Regions from separate parts of the Homo sapiens genome. Here region 2 is linked to region 1. Evidence: fine-mapped expression QTL. A gene starts in region 1. The other region holds a variant in brackets. All regions are shown on one strand. Distances are between the middles of the regions.

Region 1 (8,330 bases):
TGACAGAGTGAGACTCCGTCTCAAAAAAAAAAAAAAAAAAAAAAGAAAGAAAGAAACTGTCCTCTAGGCTGGGCACAGGGGCTCACACCTGTAATCCCAGCACTTTGGGAGGCTGAGAAAGGCAGATCGCTTGAGTCCAAGAGTTTGAGACCAGCCCAGGCAACACAGTGAAACCCTGTCTCTACAAAAAAACGCAAAAATTAGCTGGGCATGGTGGTGTGCACCTGCAGTACCAGCTACTTGGGAGGCTGAGTGGGAGGATCATCTGAGTCCAGGAGGTCAAGGTTGCAGTGAGCTGTGATCGCACTACTGCACTCCAGCCTGGGTGACAAAGTAAGACCCTGTCTCAAAAAAAAAGAAAAAATCTTCGTTTATTCCAAAGTCATGAACATATTTTCATATGCCAGCTTTGAGAATTTTTATTATTTTGTATTTCACACTTGGATCCATAACCCACACAAGAAACATTCTTCACTTTTTAATTGATGTATAACTTACAGTACATAAATATATATATTCATATAGTATATGTACATACTTTATATATATTATTATTTTATTTTAGAGACAGGGTCTGGCTGTGTCACCCAGGCTGGAGTATAACGGTGCAATCTTGGCTCTGCAACTTCTGCCTCCCAGCGTCAAGTCATCCTCCCACCTCAGCTTCCCGAGTAGCTGGGACGACAGGCGTGCACCACCATGCCTGGTTAATTTTTGTATTTTTTGTAGAGATGGAGTTTCACCATATTACCCAGGCTGGTCTCGAACTCCTGAGCTCAAGCAATCCACCCGCCTCAGTCTCCCACAGTGCTGGGATTACAGGCATGAGCCACCGCACCTGGCCTAATTTATTTATTTATTTTTGTTAGAGACAGAGTCTGTCTCTGTCATGTAGACTGGAGTGCAATGTCATGATCACAGCTCTCTGCAACCTTGAACTCCTGGGCCCAAGCAACCCTCCTGCCTCAACCTCCTGAGTAGCTAGGAGTGCAGGTTCACACCACCATGCCCAGCTAATTTTTTTTTTTTTTTTTTTTTTTTGTAGAGACAGGGTTCTTGCTATGTTGCCCAGGATGGTCTTGAACTCCTGGGCTCAAGCAATCCTCCTGCCTTGGCTTCCCAAAGTGCTGGGATTACAGGCGTGAGCCACTGCACCCAGTCTAATTTATTTTATTTTAGAGATATAGTCTCTCTCTGTCACATAGACTGGAGTGTACTGTCATCATCATAGCTTCCTGCCACCTTCAGCTCTTGAGCCGAAGCAATCCGCCTGCCTCAGCCTCCCGAGTAGCTAGGACTGCAGGCACACACCACCATGCCTGGCTAATTTTAAAATATTTTTGTAGAGACAGGGTTCTTGCTACCTTGACCAGGTCAGCCTTGAACTCCTGGGATCAAACAATCCTCCTGCCTCAGCCTCCCAAAGTGCTGGGATTCCATGAGCCACCATGCCTGGCTCTAAATGCACAAATCTTAAGTGTTCAGCATGATTGATTTTTATGTACATATGTGTACATTTAGTATAAATGTGTGTCTGTGTGTGCATATATATACACATATACATACATATGGTAACCATTACCAGATCAACATATTGAATATTTCTTACATTCTAGAAGTACCTCCTCCAGTCAATAACCCCAAAGGTTATACTACTCTGCCTCTATCACCACCGATTATTTTGCCTGTTCTTGAACTTCACATACATAAAATCATATATATATATTTTTGAGACATAGTCTCGCTCTGCTGCCCAGACTCGGATGGTGTGATAACAGCTCACTGCAGCCTCAACCTCCTGGGATCAAACAATCCTCCTGCTTCAGCCTTCTGAGTAGCTAGGACTACAGGTATGTGCCACCATGCCCAGCTAATTTTTATATTTTTCTGTAGAAACAGTTTCATTGTGTTGCCCAGGCTGGTCTCAAACTCCTAGGCTCAGGTGATCTGGTCACCTCAGCTAACAAAGCGCTGGGATTACAGGCGTGAGCCACTGCATCCAGCCAAATCATCAATTTTGTGCACTTCTGCATATATTTTATTCAACATTATGCATGTGAAAATCATCCACGAACTACTGCTAAATGTATGTTGTTGCATGCTATATGCCTGTAGCAGTAGTTCATGCAGCAGTTCAGTAATCTTTATTACTATACAATATTTCATCATATGAATAACTACTACTTATTTATCCATTCCGCTGTTGATGAGCATTTGAGTTATTTCTTGTTTCAAGGTATTATGAATAAATCTGCTATGAATTTTTTTTTCCAAGACAGTTTCGCTTATTGCCCAGGCTGGAGTGTAATGGCACAATCTCGGTTCACTGCAACCTCCGCCTCCCGGGTTCAAGCGATTCTCCTGCCTCAGCCTCCTGAGAAGCTGAGATTACAGGTAGGTGCCACCACACCCAGCTAATTTTTAGTAGTGATGGGGTTTCACCATGTTGGCCAGGCTGGTCTCGATCTCCTGACCTTGTGATCTGCCGCTTCAGCCTCCCAAAGTGCTGGGATTACGGGTGTGAGCCACTGTGCCCTGCCAAAGTGGTACATAAAAACTTTCACTCCGCCACCAGGAAGACAATTTGCCCAACCTGTTCAATACAGTTCCCGCTCAACAAACCCCAATTTAGCATCTTCTATGTGTCAGGCAGTATGCTGAGCATTGGGACCTCAAGGATGAGGAAGATGCAGTCTCTGCCCTAGAGGAGCTTACAGCAGCAGGAAGTTTCTGTCATAGGACAGACCCAGGGCTCACCAAGACTCAAGCAGATGATGAAGCCTGGGGCTCACTGGCCCAATCAGCGTATTCAGACTGGCTGGCTGCTTATGAGGCTCTTGGGCCAGGGCTGCCTGCTCAGTGGGCAGCTGACTCTAGCTGCTGCAAAATGCCTTTCACTCAAAGGTGCTATCTACCAGTGATTATATGGCATTCCAATTTTACCTGGAAGGGAGATGCAGCTACCAGCTGTTTCTTCCCTCTCCCAACCACAAAGTAACACATTTTTCATTTGTCTATCTGTTGTTTCCAGGTTTTTGCTTTTGCCAATCCCCTCCCTCACATGCCTTGAAACAAGCACTTTCAAAGACAAAGACATAAACAACAAAAGGGTGCAGGCTGAGGTGGGTCATCTTCTCTGCCTGCGTCTCCAACTCTGGATCCTGCAGTTACTGGACTCAGGCCATGGCTGACTCCTTCATCACAGCTAAGATGCTGCTGGGTTTAAGGCACTGTGACTTTCTGTGCCACTAAGACCGACAAAAAGCTGCCAAGTGAACGATGACACAAAGAAAGACACAAACTGTGGGACCCAGCCCAACTTCAGAGCTGCTAAAATGTGAACAAAAATGCATCCCGGAATGGATGGAAACCGATCATTCTAGTTGGTGTGACCTGCTCCAGTGCCTACAGTACGTGTCCTGACAGCGTGGGAGGGGATATGAAGGCCCCCCAGTCAAACAGGAGACAGCGTTAGTCTCCAAACTTAACTTTGTTATCTCTTTCCCTCCTGGGGCCCAATACCCGCCAGCCAGGACCTGTTTCTCCTCCATCTCACATTCTTTCCAGGTTCAGGACTGAAGTCGTCTTGTTCAGCTCCTTGACTTGGCCATGCTCACTCTACAATGCAGCCCATGGATGGCGCCCCCTCTGCCCAGCACATCCCTCTGCCTGGGCTCTTGTCTCCCCGAATCCTGCAAACCCCAGCCCCAGCCTTTAGCGTTCAGCCGCCCTCCCCGCTTCCCTCATCCTCCCTCGCGTCCTCGCAGTGAGATTTCAACATGTCATCTCAGTTTTTTTGTTCTTTTACTTTCCTGACTACAAGAAAAATAAAATAATCTGTCTTAAAGTGTAGCATGAGGCCAAATAATTACGGAATCCCAAGTGCTTTGGGCCCTGATGTCAAAAGAGCCAAGATGAATTCAGAATATTACAATGGTGCTGTTTCTGCGAATACTGCTTTTTCAAGACGCCTTATTCCTAACATCATGTTTTATATCCATCCTTTTAAACAAATATTTAATAGCTTGGGAATGCTGGCGAGAGCAGCGGCTCCTGTCAGCAAGGACTGAGCTCACAATTTGAAAGATGAAAGGAGATGCGTTCTACCCACAAAGAAAACGGTCTCCAGCATCATAAACTCCACATCCATCAAACCGGGCAGGGGCTGGGAATAGAAAGCCTTTCTGGAAAGAAAACACCAGCTACCCTTTGCACCCTGGGGAACATTAAAAATCAAAACAAAACATGCCACATCAACCAAAACATAAACCAGTTCTCAAACCAATCTAAGGTTCCACCCCACCAAGGCCGGCCGCGCAGTGGCCTGTGGAGAGGAGGGCCCGGCTCACGTCGGAACCCGAACCACGCGGGGTCGCAGGAACCTGAAAAGCGCCAGAGTAGCCCGGCGGCCGCACCGGGGCTGACCTGCAAGGCCTGGACCAGCCAGGAGTCCCAGGGAAGTCGAGTGCTCTCTGAGCGCTAACCACGCGCCCCTGCGGTTCCTCGGCCTCAGTTTCCTTACCTGTAAAATGGAGCCGCTGATCCTGCCTCCTGAGTTGTGGAGCGAGGCCCGCACCTGGAAGCCTTGGCCACATAGGGCGGGAAGGGCAGGGCTCCGGGGTGAGGGAGGGTGGCGGGAATTCGCACGGCCTCAGAGGACGGGGCCAGCTAGCCGGGAAAGGAAGCAGGAGCAGGCTCCCCAGGCGGCGCAGTGGGAGGACCCCAAGAGTTGCGTCCCTAGATCCAGGGCCGCCAACGTGGAACCTAAAGATCCAGTTCTGGGGATTGAGTTCCGACTCCAAACCAAGCGGCCAGCTCACAGCCGCCGCCGCCGCCAGCTGGGGAGCTCGCCGGCCAAGTGCGCACCCTCTTCCTGTTAGCCCTCCACGTGCGCGCCCTCTTCCTGCTCGCCCTCCACGTGCGCATCCACGTGCGCGGGAATTGGCTGGCGGAAGCTCCTGCCCCCAGGCAGTCCTGGGTCACGCGCACTTGTAGTAGCTTGCATTTACCAAGACAGTGAGACAGTGGCCTGGCGCGGTGTCTCATGCCTATAATCCCAGCACTTTGGGAGGCTGAGACGGGACGATTGCTTGAGCCCAGGAGTGAGAGACCTGCCTGGGCGACATGGCGAAACCCCGTCTCTACTAAAAATACAAAAATTAGCCTGGCGTGGGCAGGGCGCGGTGGCTCACGCCTGTAATCCCAGCACTTTGGGAGGCCGAGGCGGGCGAATTGCCTGAGGTCAGGAGTTCCAGACCAGTCTGGCCAACATGGTGAAGCCCTGTCTCTACTAAAAATTAAAAAACATTAACCGGGCTTGGTGGCTGGCGTGCGCCTGTAATCCCAGTTGCGCGGGAGGCTGAGGCAGGGGAATTGCTTGAACCAGGGAGGTGGAGGTTGCAATGAGCCGAGATCGCGCCACCGCACTCCAGCCTGGGCAGCAGAGCAAGACGCCGTCTCAAAAAAAAAAAAAAAAAAAAAAAAAAAAAAAAAAAAAAAAAAAAAAAAAAGCCGGGCATAGTGGTGCAGTGCCTGTAGCCCCAACTACTTCAGAGGCTGAGGTGAGAGGATCACTTGAGCCTGGGAGGCGTAGGCAGAGGTTGCAGTGAGCCGAGATCGTGGCACTGTACTCCAGCCTGGCGAAAGAGCAAGCCCCCATCTCTAACACACACACACACACACACACACGTGTGAGATAGCTGTGTCTGTTTGGCAGTGATGAGCTTCCCTTTATGGGAGATTTACATAATTATTCATAAAGGAGCGGGAATGGGCATTACTGTTAAGCATGTTACGGGGTCTCCCAGATGTGCATGTGCGTGCTAGTACACCACATCACATGTCTCATTAGCATTTTAATTCCTCACCCAGGGGTGTGTTTTTTAGCATTAAAATGAGCATAGGTCATTCCAAGGACACTCTAATCATGGGTTTCTGCACTTGTGTGAATTTGGGGATTTTCCCTTCTGCTGTTCATCCTCTTCGCTGCAGGATGTTCTAACTAGGAGCCTGATGCAGTTTATGCACCAGTGGGCGGTTTGTTCTCTACATCAATCTGGCAAGTTCATTCCCCTTTAAAGGAGGCTATGACCACTGTATCTAACCGACCTCATTTTCCCCCTCAGAGACTTTGGGTCCATGTTCTTATGAAATGTGGAGGGCTGGGTCATTTTTTCTGGAGCTGCTTCGTGCTGAGACAGGACCAGGGCCCGAAAGTCTCTTCTTGCCTGATTTAAAGTGATAGGGGTCATATCCTCCACTGGGATAAGTTGAAATCCTTGCATAACTATCAATCTAGGAATTGTTGTAACCTAGAAGACACAGACTTTAAAGGAGCTTAAACAAGCAAGGACCAAAGGTCAGTAGTAATAAGATGGCTATTGTAGGTCCCATGAAAGGTAGCAGAATGAAGCATCACATCATTATTCAGCAAGCAGAAGAACAAAAAGAGCTCCTACAAATAGGAGACCTGAGATGGGACTACCTTATGTTAAAGTAATATTAATCTCTTTATTTGGGGTGTTGGCATCTTTTCTTGAAAATGAATGTTAGGTCTTCTATAGGCTTACAAAAGGATTTTTAATTTTTAGTTGTTGATGTAGAGTCCTGTGGAAACGTAAGGGAAACAGTTTTTATCCTAGAGAGATGCACCCAGCTGGCAATGTCCTGGATTCTCTGGACTATGGTGTGTTATGGTGGTCAGCTGGGCTTTTGAGAGTGCTCCTATGAGAAGGGGTTCAGTTGGTTTCATTGGTTTTAAAGAAGCCCCCAACGAGGGTAGCAACAAGGGAGTTAGGCATTCACGTCCTTGAGTCTGCAAATTAAAGGTTGGGTGGCTGGGCACGGTGGCTCACGCCTGTAATCCCAGCACTTTGGGAGGCCGAGGCAGGCGGATCACGAGGTCAGGAGATCAAGACCATCCTGGCCAACATGATGAAACCCCGTCTCTACTAAAAATACAAAAAATTAGCCGGGCGTGGTGGTGGGCGCCTGTAGTCCCAGCTACTCAGGAGGCTGAGGCAGGAGAATGGCATGAACCCAGGAGGCGGAGCTTGCAGTGAGCCGAGATGGTGCCACTGCACTCCAGCCTGGGCAACAGAGTGAGATTCCATCTCAAAAAAAAAAAAAAAAAAAGGTAAAAAGGTTGGGTAAAGTATCTGGTCCGGGTTTTTCATCAATTCCCGTGGCAGTGCAGTGTTTGGCCTATTTGGCCTACTAGGGTCGACGGCAGAATGTAAGGACTGACAGGCTGGTCCCTGTATGTAATAGAAAATTAGCTACACCTGCCACGTGCAGGGTCACTGGATTCCTCTGTGGTAATGGGGACTGAATGACAGCCAGTGTTAGCCTTGGGTCTCCTCAGTCTTTAGTCAGGGCCATCAAGGAATTGGAAGCCCCTGTCTCCCTACGGAGTTGGGGGCAGTCCTGCTTCCGGTGACTGGCATCTCTGCATTGTGGATATGGTCTAGGTGGAGCGGACTTTTGGGCATTTTGTCCCTTGGTCTGGCAGTTTTGGGGCCAGTGTCCTGGTTTTAAGTGTAGCAGGTGTCCCCAGATTGGGGCTTGGTCTGGACTGGCTTGTTCTCTCTGATAGCAAGGGCCAATAATCGGAGGCCTGGTTTATGTCTCTTGCCTCTTCCCTCTTTCACTTTTTAGCCTCTTCTACTCTGTCTCATTATAGAAGACTTCAAAGGCTACATTAATTAGCTCATTCATTGGTGCCTGGGGACTTACAGCCAGTTTTTGTAACTTTCTCTTAATATCTGGAGCAGATTGACTAATAAAATGAGTCCCCAGAAGAATTTGACCTGCCTCAGAGACAGCATCTACATTGGTATATTTTTCTAATGCCTTTACAAGGCACCCCTGTGAAGACTCAAAAGGACCATATAATATTTCAAAGGTGCTGGGTTGCAGATTGGTCTTGGGAGCCGCTCTTACTTGGAGGAACGCTAGAGGCAATCACTTTAATAAGGACTCAGAAGTCTCTTGCCAGAGCTTCGCCAGAGTTTTCTTTACAAGTAGCTTTTTCTAGCTTTCCTGAGGATGGAGGTCTCCAGGAAGCATGTAAATGATCACTTACTCCTAGAGTGGTAGCACTTGCTGGGTTATTTTGGAAACAAAGGAGGGGCCATTGTCGCTTTGGAGTGACATAGGTAGCCCAAATCGGGGAATGATTTCTTTTAAGAGGCACTTGTGCCTTTTCTGTTTTGGTGGAGTAGGCTTCAATCTATCCCATGAAAGTATCTGTAGAGATCAGTAAGTGCTTAAATCTTTATACTGGTGGAACTTAGGGAAAGTCTAACTGTCTGTCTTCCCCTGGGTACCTT
Region 2 (8,330 bases), 54 kb before region 1:
GTGGCTATGTCTCCAGTGCCGCCTCCCACTCCCAGGAGGACACAGGGACACTCATCACAGCAGTCACAAGTGGCTCTTCTGGACTCCACGGCCCCTGCCTGCCTCAGACGTTCATTTGTCTTTCTGAGTGTAATTCTCTCCCCCGCTCATCCAAGACGGTGTGCGATTGCAGCTCTGTGCCAGGAGGAGGCAAGTGGCTCATTACACCAGACATGGAGCTGCGAGCTCCGGGAGGGAAAGGGGCAGGAGCACGGCAGGCTGGCACATGTGTGGGGTATTTATAGCAGAGCTGAGTGTGGTTTGGCTTGGCAGACAATTGCTAAACACAGTCGTGGAACAGGTTCTTAGGAGAGCTCCCACTTTCCATGCAGAGGAACATCTGCCCGCCGAGGCGAGGGAAGGGGGGCCTGGCACCTCCTGGCGCTGACGGATTGTCAGCGGGAAGCATGGGGGGAAGTCCTATACAACAGCCCCTCCAGGCTTCAAAACACTCTGTTCCATCTCAAATCACCTTCTTCAAGGGTTCTCAAGAGAGTTTGGATGTGCTAAAATTTGTAGAACAAGATGACGATATATAACACTTTTACGACCTTAAGCTAAGTCGCCATCCGCCCACCAGAGCTATTTATGCATCACGTGGCACTCCTCCCCACAGGCAGGGACCAGGCATAGGCAAATGATCATGACTGTCCACGAGCAAGTCAGCCCGGGGCTCAACGGGGGCACTCATGACACAAAACTGAGGGTTGTGGGAACATAAAAGCATGCCCTGCTGTTCCTGAGTGGATATTAGGTAACGGGCCAAACAAGCGGCTTGAAGAGACTCAAGGGACTGGGACGTGTCTGCAAGGATACTAACCAGGCTGTGAAGTCTGGGTTTCACCAGAGAGTGGGGGCAGCGGGGGCTGAGTCAGGAAGTGCCAAAAACAGGCTCATCCATCCTGGGGGCTTCCCATCTCCCTGAGGCTGGGAGCAAGGAAATTCCTTCCTGGTGTGATACTCAGATCCTCAGGCGGGGGTGTGTGGTTGTTCTGTAATTCCCTACACATGGGATACAGCCTGAGTCCAGCAACTTCCAAACAAACAAGAGAACAGGTGGCTGGGCATGGGGTGGCTCATACCTGTAATCTCAGCACTTTGGGAGGCCAAAGCAGAAGGATCGCTTGAGCCTAAGAGTTCAAGACTAGCCTGGACAACGTAGGGAGACCCCCCCCCGCCACCTCTACAAAAAATTAAAAAATTCGCCAGGCGTGGTGGTGCGTACCTGTAGTCCCAGCTACTCAGGAGGCTGAGGTGGGAGGATCACTTGAGCCTGGGAGGTGGAGGCCGCAGTGAGCTATGATTATACCCCTGTATTCCAGTTCTGAGTGACAGAGAGAGACCCTGTCTCTTAAAAAATATGAAAGAAAAAGGCAGTGAGGAAGCAGAAGTACTCACCTGCCACCGTGCCAAAAGGGCCCCAGAGGGTACAGGGCAGGACTGTGGGCACCCAGGCTGTGGAATGCCTCCCTGACTTCTTGCAGTGAGGGGCACCACAGGTGCTTGTCTTCATCTGTCAGGCCAAAAGGGAGCAGAGAGTTAGAATGGGGAACGGAGGGCAGGGTGCACCACTCCCACTGAAGGGGCTGGCCGTGACCCCTGGCCCAAGATAACCAGTTTTTGCCTTCTCTGACACCACAGGTGTTATCTGGGGAAATGAAGCAACTGGTGGTTTCCAAGTACTTCTGGGGCTTTGTGAATTTCAATGTTTTCTTGAATATTCTCTTACCTGGTCTTCAAGGTATGGCTGCACTTGGGTCAACCACTCCCTGACCATCTGGCCATCCACATCAGGCAGTAGTCAGGGTGCTCGGCTGCCCACAGCCAAGTGACACGAAGAGTCCTGTGCCAGAGGCCCCGAGCTACAAGGCTCACTGGACACCAGGCTCACGTCCTTAGACTCTCTTGCTGCAAAGCACCGAGGCTGACACTCAGCCCACTGCAGCCTCTGCAGCACTCTTGCTGCTGCAACATTTGGGCATCCCTAGTCCACCATCCCTGCTGGGAGCACACCTCGCCTGCCTCCCACAGCCTGGGGCGTGTCTCCTAAGCAAGTGTGCGCTATGGGGACCAGTTTCCCTTGCCCAATTTAACCAAACATTCATGATAAAGTCTGACCACATCGGCCGGGCACAGTGGCCCACACCTGTAATCCTAGCACTTTTCAGAGACTGAGGCAGGCAGATTGCCTGAGCTCAAGAAGTTCGAGACTAGCCTGGGCAACACGGTGAAACCTCATCTCTACTAAAATACAAAAGAAAGTAGCCGAGCATGGCGGCATGAGCCTGTAGTCCCAGGATAATTGCTTGAACTTGGGAGGTGGAGGTTGTAATGAGCTGACATAGAGCCACTGCACTCCAGCACTCCAGCAGCCTGGGTGACAGAGCGAGACTCCGTCTCTCCAAAAAAAAAAAAAAAAAAAAAAAAAAAAAAAAAATCTGACCACGTCAGCAAACAGGGAGAACCTTACATACTCAGGTACTCAGGGCCTTTTTTTCTGTCAGACTACTTAAGGACATTTTTATAAGTGGGAGAGTAGAAAGATAAAAAAGAATGGGTCCAGACGTCTTCTCCAAGGATGGCTGCCCAAGACCTCCTGCCCCATGTGTTCTCTGCACCGTGAGCTCCCACACCTCATCCAGGGACAGAGCCTATGTTTCCACTCTGCTCTCATTCCTCAGCATTGTCCGACTTAGCAGTTGACTTGCTTCTCCTTCTGTCTCTCCCCGGTAGAACAGGAGTCCCACGAGGGCAGGGGCCACATCTGTGTTGGTCATCTCTACAGGCCCCATGCCTAAAAACGTGGCCGGTGCATGGAAGAATTAGAATGAATGAATGGAGAGAATCCAAAACAAATCTGACCAAGTACTACACAGCTAAGAGGGTGCTATGTTCTGAGTGTTTATGTATAGCCTCCAAAGCTCATATGTTGAAATTTAATCCCAAGTGTGATAGCATCAAGAGGTGGGGCCTTTGGGAGGAAAATTAGGTCATGAGAATGGAGCTCTCACAAATGGGATCAGTGCCCTGATAAAGGAAGAAGGCCTGAGGGAGCTGGTTGCCCCTTTTACCCTTCTGCCACATAAGGAATTGGCCAGAAGACCTCCTCTTTGGGGCAGAGAGCAGCTCTCACCAGACACCAAATTTGCTGGTACCTTGATCTTGGACTTCCCAGCCTCCAGAACTGTAAGCAATAAATTTCCCAGTTTATAAATTACCCAGACTAAGGTACTTTGTCATAGCATCTCAAATGGACCAAAACAGGGAGACTGAAAACAAGTCATAAGATGGGCTGGCAGTATCCAGAAGGCAGATGTTAAATTTGACAATGGGTGGGGCATCAGATTCAAGAACCTGGAAGCTGGGTTAGGGATACATCAGAAGCACATACGTGAGACTTCACCATTCTAGAGGGTGAGTGTCCCACCCTGAGGACCCACTTCAGCACACTCCACTGTGTTCAGGAACTAGCTAGGTGTGGAAGATAAAAAGGCAAGCTAGAGGAGACCTTGACCTCAAGGAGCTCATGGTCTAGGAGGAACAGAAGCCAGATCAAGAAATACAAGTGAATGTCTTTATGCAAAAATCAAAGCAGGTAAAAGGTACAGAGCCTTCTCAGAGGAGCAGGTGTTACTTGGAGGTGGTGAGCGGACAAGACAAGGAATATGAAATGTGGAAGGTGGAATGGGAATGTCTCTTTTCTGACACAGAGACAGAAAAGACGGAGGCAGGGCAGCACAAAGCAGCATGGCATGTCAAGACTGGAGGCAGAACAGGCACAAAGCAGGGAGGGCTGCTGCGGGGTGGGGACTTCCGCAAGGACCACCGTAAGAATCAGTTTCCTAAGCTCACTGAAAAGTGCTGGCAACAGTCCTGCCCAGCTGCAGTGCTGGCAGACGGCAGGATGGCGGGCAGAGGGTCTCTGAAACCTGCCCAAGGACATTTCTTCGGCAGGCATCGAGTATCCCTCTTTGGAAATGTATATGGGTTGAGACTCACCAAACAAGTAATTAGACTCTTGGAGGAGGAAAA[A/G]CTTTCTTGTTTGTTTGTTTTTTTTTTTTTTCCTCTCTTGGGCAACTTAACAAGTAAAGAGTGGTAATGATACCCCTTACTCGCCTCACAAACGAGCTGGGAAGAATGAAGTCTGCAAAACACAATGAGACTCCACTGGAAAGAGAGAACTGTTCACCAGGGCCTTCAGGGGACTGTGCACGTATGTGCATGCACCTGTGGGCGGGCAGATGAACTTTCCAGGGAGGGGAAGACAATCAACCTAGGGCGAGGCCCCGGGAGGCCCAGGTGGGTTGGAACCTCCCGCCAGCAGCCTCAGACCCCAAGGAGGTTGTGCCCGCCTCCCCTTGAGATCCCCACCCCAGCCCACACAGAGGCATCTTCTGCTGTGAAACCTCCTGACTCACAGGCAGCAGTGCCCACTCTGCCAGCCTCCAGCTGGGCATCATCCCTTCTCCCCTCTCCTACCCAGCAACTGCTCCACAGCACAGCACGACCCAGGCCAAGGTGTCAGGAGCAGTGTCAGAGGAGGGGCCTGGGAGGCCTCGGGACAGTTAAGTCCCTATCAGCAGCCGTGGAGGCTGGTGACTTGAGGACAGGAAAATACCACCCCGGAGCCCATAATTAACACTGCCTAGAAGTGGGCCATGCACTCAGCTTTTCCTGAGCTCTGTTTGTCCCCGATGAGGGCTTTCTGGAGAGCTGACACAGAGGAAACTCAGATGTCAGGCTGCCAGGCTCCAGCTCCCCAACTCAGTTCCTCCAGACACAGAACAGTCATTTTAGGTGATGCCCAGGGGAGCACCGGAACACTGTGTCTTTTAAAATGCCAGCATGGGCCGGGCATGGTGGCTCACGCCTGTAATCCCAGCACTTTGGGAGGCCGAGGTGGGTGGATCACCTGAGGTCAGGAGTTCGAGACCAGCCTGGTCAATGTGGTGAAACCCTGTCTCTACTAAAAATACAAAAAAATTAGCCGGGCATGGTGGTGGATGCCTGTAATCCCAGCTACTTAGGAGGCTGAGGCAGGAGAATTGCTTGAACCCAGGAGGCAAAGGTTGCAGTGAGTTGAAATCGTGCCACTGCACCCCAGCCTGTACAACAGAGTGAGACTCCGTCTCACAAAAAAAAAAAAAAAAAAAAAAGCCGGGCGTGGTGGCTCACGCCTGCAATCCCAGCACTTTGGGAGGCTCAGGCGGGCAGATCACAAGGTCAGGAGATCAAGACCATCCTGGCTAACACGGTGAAACCCGGTCTCTACTAAAAATACAAAAATTAGCCGGGCGTGGTAGTGCACGCCTGTAATCCCAGCTACTTGGGAGGCTGAGGCAGGAGAACTGCTTAAACCCAGGAGGTGGAGGTTGCAGTTAGCCGAGATCGCGCCACTGCACTCCAGCCTGGGCAACAAAGCGAGACTCCGTTTCATAAAAAAATAAAAAAAAAAATTAAAAAAATTTGCCAGCATGAACAGCCCAAAGACTCTGGGCTCTGTGTAAGAGGCTGTGAGTCTGCAGGCGTCCCTTTAGGTTACCCTTCTGGGATGGAACTGACACTTGGGGGTATGGGGGGAAGATAGAGGAAGAAAATCATCAGGCCTAAAATAAAAGTGGCTTTTCCATCTGTGTCGTGGAAGAAGCTGTTAATTCACTACCGTTCTCCTGGCACCTCTTACATGGAATTGGAAATCCATGCACATCCCAAGAACCTCTTCGGTCACTGGAAGCGCCAGCCTCAGCTCCAAGACCTGGCTCCTGCCCCCCTTCTGGGCCTCCCTCGTGCCCTGAGTCCTCAGCCTGGGCCTTAGGGCTTTGGCGGCAGGAGACTGGGTCTGCAGGCTCCATTCTTATCCTCCCCAACCCCCAAATCAAACAGCTAATGAGCTCTGCTGGGTGGCTGCACTGGGAGGGCCAAGCAGCACCATCTGCCTGAGTTCTAGTTCCCTGAATCCGAGATACCACAGGAGGAGGGGAGGTCCCCATCAGCCTTAATGGGCAAGGGGGCAAGAGGGCCAGGAGGCTGGTTCCTAAAGGAAAGCAAGCTACCCATCCCACTGAGTCCGATCTTAACTGGAGTGCGGGGCTCACAATGTTTACGGGAGGCTTAAAATCCAATTCTTTCATATCCTCCCAAATCTAATCACTTATCTTCCCGCAGCACTTTTCTACTTAAATTTAAACTTGTTTCAATATTGCCAGCTTTAGTCAATTAGCTTTAGCTTTAGTCATTTCAACCGTGCATTCACTCAGCAAATGGCAAGCAAACACCAGGTGCTGTTCTAAATGCCAGGGACCCAGTGGTGAACAAAACACAAAGCAGCCCTGCTCTCGGGTTGTTGGTGTTGGGTGGGGGACACACAACGCACACATGAAAGATACATAAAGCCCAATGATGCTGGGTGGCATCCGTGGCTGGGAGGAAGGGTGGTCAGGGGACGCTGGAGCACCCTGAGTGACTTGGGGAGCCTGGCAGAGACCTGAGGCCAGGGAGCACGGCTGTCTTCTAGGTTGAGCAAGGAGCCCAGGGTGCTGGAGTGGGTGCAAGGCCAGGGGCTGGAGGTGAGGATGGAGAGGCAGATGGGGGCGAGAGAGAAGCAGATCAGCTGGCCTGGAAGACTGGGGCAAGGACCAGGGATGAAGGGAAGCCACTGGACTTGTAAACAGGGAGTGTCATTACCAAAGGGAGCCAGGTCCTCAACAACAACAACAAAAAAATCCTGTATCCCCACACTATGACATATCCATTTCCTATTTTAAAAACATGCACATTTTGTTGCCCCGATGACAGTGTAAGCACAGGATGCAGGCAGACCGGCGTTCTCCCAAAGAGTGCCACTGCCTCTCCTGAGAAAACCGTGTGTCTAGGGAGACACTGCGAAATGCTGACCGCTTGCTGTTCCTGGTCTCTCTCTCACCGGCTCTTTTCCAGATCTGCACCCACATTCTTTTGGAACCTTCTTTTTGTTTCTTCTCTACCCTGCAGCCAGCTCTGAGGGTGCCTTTCTTTCCTTTTTCTCCCCACTCACCCTGAGCCCAAGGCCTTTCCTGTGGTGCCCCTGACAACCTCCCTACCTGGCTATAACCAACTCTGCACCCGCCAACACCATCTCTATAGGCCCCTGGCCTGCTTATTCACAGAAATGTGTACAGGGCAGGTGATGCCATCCCCAGGGCACCTCTCCTTTCCCCTGCCCTTCTGTAACTCACACCACTGCCTGGTGTCACCTAATACCAGCAAGCACTCGAGGCCCCCGGTATGCGTGACAGAGCGACATTGTGCCAAACCACAGAACCACTCATATCTGCTAGAATTAGGTTTGGCTACAAATAACAAAATGGAACAAAATTAAAACAAACAAACAAACAAAAACAAAAACAAAAGAAAAAAACCCACCCGGCCTTCAAAAAGAATTTTATTCTCTGACAAAAAAGAAGTCTGCAAGTAGGCAGGTCACAGCCGGTGCAGAGACCCAACTGTACCTGCAGGATCTCAGGAGCCCGTCTCTCAGCTCTGCTGTTCTTAGCATGTGCCTCTCATGCTCCAGGTCACATCACGGTCCAGCACGGCTGGTAGAGGCCCAGCTATTACGGCTCAGCTCCAGGCAATCGCCTTCTCACTTGGCCACCTAAGCATGCATTCTTGGTTGTTTTTAAGGATACAGGGCTCCCTCAGCACGACTCAGGAAGGTAGCAGTAGCAAACTACCCTTCCAAGTTTGGAAAGCAAAAGGTTGAGACTGGTTTAGACTCAACCTAAGAGTTTCCCAGTAATGTCCCTAAATGAATAATCTATCAGATTCTCTCCCAGTTTGGATTTTCAGGTTTTAATTTTTGTTTGGAGACGGAGTCTTGCTCTGTCACCCAGGCTGGAGTGCAGTGGCACGATCTCGGCTCGCTGCAACCTCTGCCTCCCAAGTTCAAGCAATTCTCCTGCCTCAGCCTCTCAAGTGGCTGGGACTACAGGCATGCACCACCACGCCTGGATAATTTTTGTACTTTTTTAGTAGACAGGGGGTTTCACCATGTTGTCCAGGCTGGTCTCGAACTCCTGACCTCAGGTGATCCACGTGCCTCGGCTCCGCAAAGTGCTGAGATTACAGGCGTGAGCCACCACGCCTGGCCATTTGTTAAAATCCATAGAACTGCACAACACAACCCTAATTTAGGCTATGGACTTCAGTTAATAATGTATTGATATTGTAACAAATATACACACTAACATATGATGTAAATAATAGAGGAAACTGGTGGGTGGGTGGGAGTGGAGAATGAGTATACAGAAACT

Alleles and levels. Positions count from the first base shown, and alleles are read on the strand shown. Sizes are in standard deviations (SD) of each study's normalised expression.
As copies of A replace G in region 2, the expression in testis of the gene that starts at base 4,862 in region 1 goes down (large effect, 0.78 SD a copy in GTEx).

Evidence for each region. PIP is the estimated chance that this variant, and not a neighbour inherited with it, causes the effect.
Region 2: its variant is fine-mapped to the expression of FAM178B in testis (GTEx, PIP 0.96).

Annotation. Positions count from the first base shown.
Region 1 is chr2:96,981,719-96,990,048 of GRCh38, forward strand. It overlaps FAM178B (family with sequence similarity 178 member B), which reads right to left and starts at 4,862. Exons shown (of 17, transcript NM_001122646.3): 1 at 4,523-4,862. The coding sequence starts at 4,595. RefSeq lists enhancers at 3,899-4,419, 4,420-4,940.
Region 2 is chr2:96,927,769-96,936,098 of GRCh38, forward strand. FAM178B (family with sequence similarity 178 member B) reads right to left here. Exons shown (of 17, transcript NM_001122646.3): 9 at 1,438-1,552. Among named protein-coding and RNA genes, the nearest start is that of FAM178B, 55 kb to the right of the region's middle. The variant A/G (reference allele first, on the strand shown) is at 4,072.